3 separate regions of the Homo sapiens genome follow, and all the other regions are linked to region 3. The links come from fine-mapping of genetic effects on gene expression. A gene starts in region 3. Each other region holds a variant in brackets. All regions are shown on one strand. Distances are between the middles of the regions. Region 1 overlaps DLG3 (discs large MAGUK scaffold protein 3). Region 2 overlaps TEX11 (testis expressed 11). Region 3 holds the start of SLC7A3 (solute carrier family 7 member 3).

Region 1 (2,768 bases), 460 kb before region 3:
GCTGGGATTACAGGTGTGAGGCACTGCGCCCAGCCTGTTTTTTAAATTTTATCTTGATGTACAGATGTTTCATATGTTTTTATGTGGTCAAATCTATTAATGTTTTGTATATTTTGCCTGTGCCCAGAGGTTTAGAAGGGCCTTGCCTACCCGAGGGCAAATAAATACTGTCCGAGTTTTATTCTAGTTATTTAATATTTTTGTTTTTGTATTTGTTATTTTTTTAGAGACAGGGTCTGGCTTTGTCACCCAGGCTGGAGTGCAGTGGCATGATCATAGATCACTGGAACCTTAAACTCCTAGGCTCATGTGATCCTCCTGCCTCAGCTTCCCAAGTAGCTAAGGACCACAGGCACATGCTACCAAGCATGGCTAATTTTTGTGGTTTTTTTGTAGAGATGGGGTCTCACTGTGTTGCCCAGGCTGCTCTCTCAAATTCCTGGCCTCAAGTGATTTTCCTGCCTTGGCATCTCAAAGCACTGGGATTACAGCCAAGAGCCACTGTGCCTGGCCTGTTTTTGTGTTTAAAACCTTAACTTGCCTGGAGTTGATTTGTGATGTAAAGTAGGGTACTAACTTAATTTCTTCCAAATGTTAATGAATTACCTCAGTACCATTTGTTAGATAATCCATCATTTCTCTGCATTTTTGAAGTACCACCTTTATTATAAATAAAATTCTTTTATACACACACACACACGATTTGGACTTTAATATTTTACTTTTGGATTATCAGTTACTGAAAAATGACCATAGGTGTTTTGACAACTTAGATGAGAAGAGTATTTCTCCAGGTCCCATTTTCTGAGTTTCTTCCACAGAAACTTGACCTAAAGGAGATTCAGTTGAGTTTGTGATCCTGTGGGTGTGACAACTGTGAAGAACATTTGAATCGAGACTCTCCATTGACCTGGTAAAACATAGAAATTGGTTACATTAACTCAAGTTGTCAAACTTCATCATAAAATGTGTGTGTTTTAGTTACTGTGTTATAGTATCTCTGTTAAGTGGAAAAGATTCTTCTTATCAAGTGTACCCACCACCTGGAGAACAGGGAAAAGGTACAAATCTGTCTTTATTCTCATGTTTTTTGGATGAGGTATTTTGTTTTGGTGGTCTTTATGTATACTTTGGCTTATGGGTTGCAAGAGCCAAAGACTCTGTTAATCTTTCATTTGAATATGCTATATGAAATTGCTTTAAGATATAGAGAAGGCCCTATTGAGGCTTTTACCCTGAGCTGCTGGGTGATCCGGAATAGGTGAGAAGGCAAGATCCTGTGAATACTTTTTCTTAGTTTGATGTGAGATCAAGGCATTTTTCATTCCAGTCATTTTAGACCAGGTAGATTTTTTTTTGTTTGTTTGTTTCATTTTTGTTTATGAGATGGAGTCTCACTCTGTCGCCCAGGCTGGAGTGCAGCGGCGCGATCTCGGCTCACTGCAACCTCTGCCTCCTGAGTTCAAGCGATTCTTGTGCTTCAGCCTCCTGAGTAGCTGGGATTACAGGTGCCCGCCACCATGCCCAACTAATTTTTGTATTTCTAGTAGAGATGGGTTTTCACCATGTTGGCCAGACTGGTCTCAAACT[C/T]CTGACCTCCGGTGATCCGCCCGCTTCGGCCTCCCAAAGTGCTGGGATTACAGGAGTGAGCCACGCGGCACCTGGCCTAGTATAGCATTTTCACTCAGTAGCTCTTCTTGCATCCTCACTAAGCTCTTTGGGGGACAAAAACATCCAGTCAATAGGGATAAACTGGAAATTTTTATGGCATGCTGATCCGGCATGTTTTGTTTTCTGTTTTCTTCTCAGTATCCTTCAGGATGGTATCCAGAACCCTGGCTATGTGTGTGTATGGCCGAGGAAGCATACACAGTGACAGTGCAGGGACCAGAATAAGGACACCCAGCTTTCTGGGTTAGTCATAGTTCCAAAATTATTCTAAAAGTAGAACTGAAATTATTTTTCCTCAAGCAATATTTGCCCATTGAAGCCTATTTGCCATATTTCTGCCCTCTCACATAGCCTTGAGAAATATTTTTGGTAATTTATGTTTATTGATTTGGTATTGTTTTTACCCAAAGAGTTTAGAATTATTTGCAGATTTGAAGATTTCCCTCTCTAAATTATATTTAAAAATTAAATCAGACTAGTTCTAACTTTGATTCCGTATGGACCTCATTGATTTGGTCATAAAATCATAATGATGTCATAATTAGAAGGGATCTTAGAAATTATCTAGTTTTAGAGGTGTTAGACAACACCTCTAAACAATGGACCCATCATTAGAAACTAACCCAAGTAATAGGCTTCATTATTATTATTTTCAGACAAGGTGTTACTCTGACACCCAGGCTGGAGTGCAGTGGTGTGATCATAGCTCCCTGTAGCCTTGAACCCCTGGGCTCAAGCGATCCTCCTGCTTCAGCCTCCTGAGTAGTTGGGACTACAGGCGTACACCACCACGCCTGACTAATTCTCTTATTTTTTTTGCAAAGACAGGGTCTCAATATGTTGTGCAGGTTGGCCTCAAAATCCTGGCCTCAAGCAATCCTCACACCTTGGCCTCCCAAAATGTTATGATTACAAGTGTGAGCCACTGCATCTGGCCCCATAACTATTTTATAAAGACAAGTTTGTGATTCCTAGAAATGTTCTGATATTTGGCAATTCATATACTTACTCCATACTAACAAGTATCTTCTTAATGGGCTTATTTTACTTTCACCTCCATCCATTTCTTTCTTTTTTTTTTTTTTAAGATGGTGTCT
Region 2 (2,768 bases), 140 kb before region 3:
GGCAAGGATGTGAAAAAAGGAAACCCTTGTACATTGTCAATGAGAATGTAAATTAGTACAAACATTATGGAAAACTGTATAGAAGTTCCTCAACAAACTAAAAATAAAATTACTATATGATGCAGCTTTTGGGTATTTACCCCAAATATTTGAAGTCAGTTTGTCAAAGAGACGTCTACACTTCTGGGTTCACTGCAACGCTACTCACAATAGCCAAGTTACACAATCCACCTAAGTGTCCCTCAACAAATAAATGGATTAAAAAATGTAGCATTATATACACAATGGAATACTATTCAGCCTTTAAAAGAATGGAAAAACTGTGATTTGTGACAACATGGATGAACCAGGAAGATATTATGCTAAGTGAAATAAGTCCAGCACGGAGAGTCAAATACCACATGTTTTAAATTGTACCTGGAATCTAAAACAACTGAACTCGTACAAGCACAGAGTAGAATGGTGGTTACAGAGACAGAGCTGTGGAGAGAATGTAGAGATGATGATTAAAAAGTACAAACTTGGATAAGGAACAAGATGGTTCAAGACACAGCTGGGAAGCACCTCTCTCACCAAGAGAAACCAAATATCAAGTAAACCATCACACTTCAAACACATCTTTTGAGAGAAAACACTGAAAGTCAACAGAGAGGCAACACAGACACTGACTTGGAAGAGGCACAGGAAACTGGGAACTCCGCATGGAGTCACCAAGCACCAGGACCAGCTCTCAGCCTTCAACAGGTCCTAAGGAAGGGGTAAATGAAGGAATTATGAGTCAACACACTCCCACCACGGACCTCTGGGATCCTAGCTACAAGAGATTCCACAAACTCCATAGACATTTAAATTGGCAGGGTAAAATGCCAGGAGAGTAGACAGAGGCAGAGCTCAAGCCTGCGCAGAGCCCAGAAGGTTCTGCATGCAAGGCAGCTGCAGTAAAACACGACCCTGATGACTGCTGGGCCAAGAGAGAGGATAGAGCAGAGATGGCTTTCCTGCAGTACTGGAGTGCATCTGATCTGCATGCCCCTCTGTCGGCAACACCTCCCAAGGCTCCTGCCTGGATTCTCCTACAAGAGCAAGCACACAGCATAGCCTCCACTGCCCTGCCTGAGTGCTTTGCCAGTGGCTTGGGTGCACTTCAGCCCCGCTAGGACAGCTAGTGTTCAACTATGAGGGGCCAGAGTACAAAGCTGCAGGCCCAGTCCCAATCCTGCATCGTTTGAGCACACAGGTCAGAAGTTTCAAGAATGGCAAGTTGGATAAAAAACAAGACCCAATCATTTGCTGTCTTTTTTTTATTATTATACTTTAAGTTTTAGGGTACATGTGCACAACATGCAGGTTTGTTACATATGTATACCGTGGCACATATACACCATGGAATACTATGCAGCCATAAAAATGATGAGTTCA[T/A]GTCCTTTGTAGGGACATGGATGAAGCTGGAAACCATCATCTGCTATCTTTAAGAGATGCATCTCACATGTAATGACACCTACAGGCTCAAAGTAAAGTGATGGAGAAAGATCTATCATAAAAACAGAAAAAAAAGCAGGGGTCACTATTCTTATATCAGATAAAACAGACTTTAAACCAACAATAGTCAAAAAGGACAAAGGACATTACATAACAATAAAGGATTCAATTCAACAAGAAGACTTAATTATCCTAAATATATATACACCCAACATTAGAGAACGCTGATTCATAAAACAAGTACTTCTAGACCTATGAATAGCCTCAGTCACACAATAATAAGGGGAACTTCAAGAACCCACTGACAGCGTTAGACAGATCATCAAGGCAGAAAACTTATGAGGAAATTCTGCACTTAAATTCAACACTTGAACAATTGGACCTAATAGATTTCTACAAAATATGTCACTCAGCAACCATGGAACACACATTCTTCTCATCTGCATGCAGAACATACTCTAAGATTGACCACATGTTCGGGCATAAAGCACATCTCAATGAATTCAAACAAACTGAAATCATACCAAGCATACACTCAGACCACAGTGCAATAAAAATAGAAATGAATACCAAAGAAGATCCCTTAAAACCACACAATTACCTGGAAATTAAGCACAACTTGTTACTGAGTGATTTCAGGTAAACAATAAAATTAAGGCAGAAATAAAAAATACTTTGAAATTAATTAAGATACACGACATGCCAAAATCTCTGGGATGGGCCATGCAGTGGCTCACGCCTGTAATCCCAGCACTTTGGGAGGCCGAGGCGGGTGGATCACTTGAGGTCAGGAGTTGAAGACCAGCCTGACCAACATGAAGAAACTCCGTCTCTACCAAAAATGCAAAATTAGCCGGGCATGGTGGCACATGCCTGTAATTCCAGCTACTCGAGAGGCTGAGGCAGGAGAATCACTTGAACCCAGGAGGCAGAGGTTGTGGTGAGCCGAGATTGCGCCATTGCACTCCAGCACGGGCAACAAGAGCAAAACTCCGTCTCAAAAAAAAAAAAAAAATTAGCCAGGCATGGTACACGCCTGTAGTTCCAGCTATGCAGGAGGCTGAGGCAGGAGAATCGCTTTAACCCAGGAGGCAGAGGTTGCAGTGAGCCAAGATGGTCCCACTGCACTCCAGCCTGAGCTACAGGGCAAGGCTCTGTCTCAAAAAAAAAAAAAAAAAAAAAAAAAAAAATATATATATATATATATATATATATATATATATATATATATACACACACAAATATATATCTGGGATGCAGCAAAAGCAGTGTTAAGAGGAAAGTTTATA
Region 3 (2,768 bases):
GCCACGGCATCCTAGCAGGAATTGAAGAAGATGATCTGGTGAAAAACAAGACAAAAACCCCTCGACAGGGCTCATTATCCCTAAACTCTGAAAGCGAATTACAAGACCCCCTCCACCAAGCAAAGGAGCTATTGGGAAATGAGGACGGGGATATGGAAGGGACAAAGGCAAGTCACTTTACCTCTAACCTCAGTTTCTTCATAAACAAGTAGGAATTACAATACCTTACAAGGTTTTTGGAAGGGCTAATTTCAGAAATGGCACGTGAAAGCCCCCTGAAGTAGAGTGGCTGGCGCCTAGTAAGTGCTCAATCAATATTAGGTCTCTTTCTCTTGCCAGAAACTGATAGGGTTTATCCTAATCTCAACCCAGGAATCTTGAAACCTAATGTGTCAGTTCCTTGGCCTGTGGCTATTTGGGAATTAAACAGAGCTCCACCCAGGGGCTTCCCCCGGGGCTTCAAACAGACACAGCCCCCAGACCCCCCAGAGGGAGAGGGGACCAACCTCGCTGCAGATTAAAAGTGAGCACCGACTCAATTCCATCCCTCCTCACCAAGCCCACACTGCTCAACTAGCGCAGCTGTCGCCCAGGGGAGTAAGCAAATGTTCCCCTACTTCCTCCCAAGCCCTGCTAGGCTGACCTGCAAGCATCAACAGCGAGGCGGGGCTTCGACATCTAAAGATTTGGAGATGCGCCCCCAGAGGGGCCCCAGGGCAGCCCGAGATTGCTCGCACTCTCCTCTCAGCAGAGAGGAAGGGTTCCACCCGATGCCCCCCGACTCAGGTCCCAGATTTTCCTGCCCCCATCTAGAAATGGTTTGGAGCTGGGGTGGAGACGGGAGCCCTAACTCCCGGGGCGGGGGTCTCGCCAGCAACAGGTCACGGCCCCGTTGATGCAACTGCATGCCATGGTTGCCAGAGAATCCTAGGTACGCCCGGACCCTCGCCGTCCCCCCTCCGACACACGTGTGGGTCCCCAACGCTTACCAGAGAGCTGTTGCAAACCTAGGGAGCACAGAGTCTTGGACTGGGCTCGGTGAGGCGGAGTTAAGCCGAGTTGGGTTGGAGCTGCCGAGTTCGGCCGCTCAGGCTTCAAAGCTGCGGCTTGGGGTCGTTGCGCGCCAAGCGCCCCTTATATACACCAGGAGGCGGAGCCGGTAACGTCATGGGATCCCACCCCCAATCCTCCTCGCTACACACAATACACACACACACACACACACACACACACACACACACACACAACACACACACTTCTTGGCTTTGCAAAAGGATTGCGTGGGGCCTGAGACTGCGTCCCATCCTCACTAGCAAGCCTGGCGTGCCGGGGAGCGAGAAAAGGGGGAGGGCAGTCTTTTCCCATTTGTCTCGCTGGTCGTCAGAACAGGACAATAAGAGGCTTCCTGGCCAAAGAACCCATGAGATTTTCCACCTCTGTGCCCTGTTAGGACCAGTGATTCTGGGCAGGAATGGGGAAGGTAGGTGGGGTGTGATGGGGGGGAGTTGGGTGCGTGTGTGTGTGTGTGTGTGTGTGTGTGTGTGTGTGTGTGTCAGGAGTGAAGCGGAACACAGCAGGGGAGTCTCCACCTCACTCTCAGTCTTTCTTCCTTAGCTTTCTTGTCTACACATCTGACCCTGACCCTTCAGCTCTCACGCTCAGCTGTGGGTGTTTCTAATGCAGGCAGCAGGAGAATGGAAGATGATTTCAAGCCACCTGTATACAGATAATTAATCCAGTCTAAATTGATTTATAGGCCCCAATCTCTCTATAATGTGTCTCCAGCTGCCTATAAATATTAAACTATTAAATGTGAAATTCTGACAATACCAACATCTTGGAGGAGGAAGCTTGTTTAGTTCCATTTTATTGATGTGTAAGCTGAGGCTCAGAGGCATGACTTGTTTGACACCACACCATAATTATTGTTGACCACCTTTGATAAAACCTGGCCTGTTGGACTTCAATGCCTGCCTCCCGTAGGCACCATATCTTATTCAAATGAACAAGAAGAGGGATGTGGCCACAAGGAAAGACAAACAGGGAGAGGCATCAGCAGCAGGGTAGGTCCGTTTAGGCTAGGAGATACTAGGAAACAGAAAAGGACCCGAAGAATCTACGAATGATCACATTGGGTCAGATCCATAATCCATCTGACCCAATCAATTCTTACTCATAAGAAAGCACCAAAGGTTGTGAAAGTGTGGTCCCTGCTCCACCAAGACATCTTGGGGACTAAGGATGGACTCAAATATCCTTGCTTCTTTTAATGATCCATGATGAATATATTACCCATGAATCTAAAATCTAAATCCGTTCTGAAAGAATTGGTATTTTCAACCAGCTGCAGCTCCATTTGGCATTCATTAAGTATTTATTGAGCATTTATTGAGCACTATGTGTAGTAGCTGGTACAGCAATGAAGAGACTATGAAGGAAACATAAAATAAAATCCTTGCCCTCCTAGTCCTAATCTAACTAGGGAAAGAAAACACACACTATACAACTGAAACCTTATTACATAGACGTTAGGAGTGCTGTGTTTGGAATTGCACCTAGGTTAAACTCACAGCTCAGCCACTGTGGATTACCTAACATCCCTGAGCCTCAGTTTCTGGACATAATATACATATTTCACAAGGTTGTTGTGATGCTTAGATGAGATTATGAAGTCAAGTCTTCCTGCCTGGCACATGGAAAGTACTCAAGAAAAACTTGATACATATTTGGAACGATATATTAGTGTATATGATCTGGTTGCTTAGATT

What was found.
Region 1: its variant is fine-mapped to the expression of SLC7A3 in whole blood (TOPMed, PIP above 0.99).
Region 2: its variant is fine-mapped to the expression of SLC7A3 in whole blood (TOPMed, PIP 0.93).

Annotation. Positions count from the first base shown.
Region 1 is chrX:70,466,705-70,469,472 of GRCh38, forward strand. The region is part of intron 9 of DLG3 (discs large MAGUK scaffold protein 3); the gene reads left to right. Among named protein-coding and RNA genes, the nearest start is that of DLG3-AS1, 12 kb to the left of the region's middle. The variant C/T (reference allele first, on the strand shown) is at 1,591.
Region 2 is chrX:70,789,648-70,792,415 of GRCh38, forward strand. All of the region lies in intron 9 of TEX11 (testis expressed 11), which reads right to left. Among named protein-coding and RNA genes, the nearest start is that of SNORD3E, 55 kb to the right of the region's middle. The variant T/A (reference allele first, on the strand shown) is at 1,420.
Region 3 is chrX:70,929,988-70,932,755 of GRCh38, forward strand. It overlaps SLC7A3 (solute carrier family 7 member 3), which reads right to left and starts at 1,109. Exons shown (of 12, transcript NM_032803.6): 1 at 990-1,109; 2 at 1-35. The coding sequence starts at 10. RefSeq lists an enhancer at 352-853.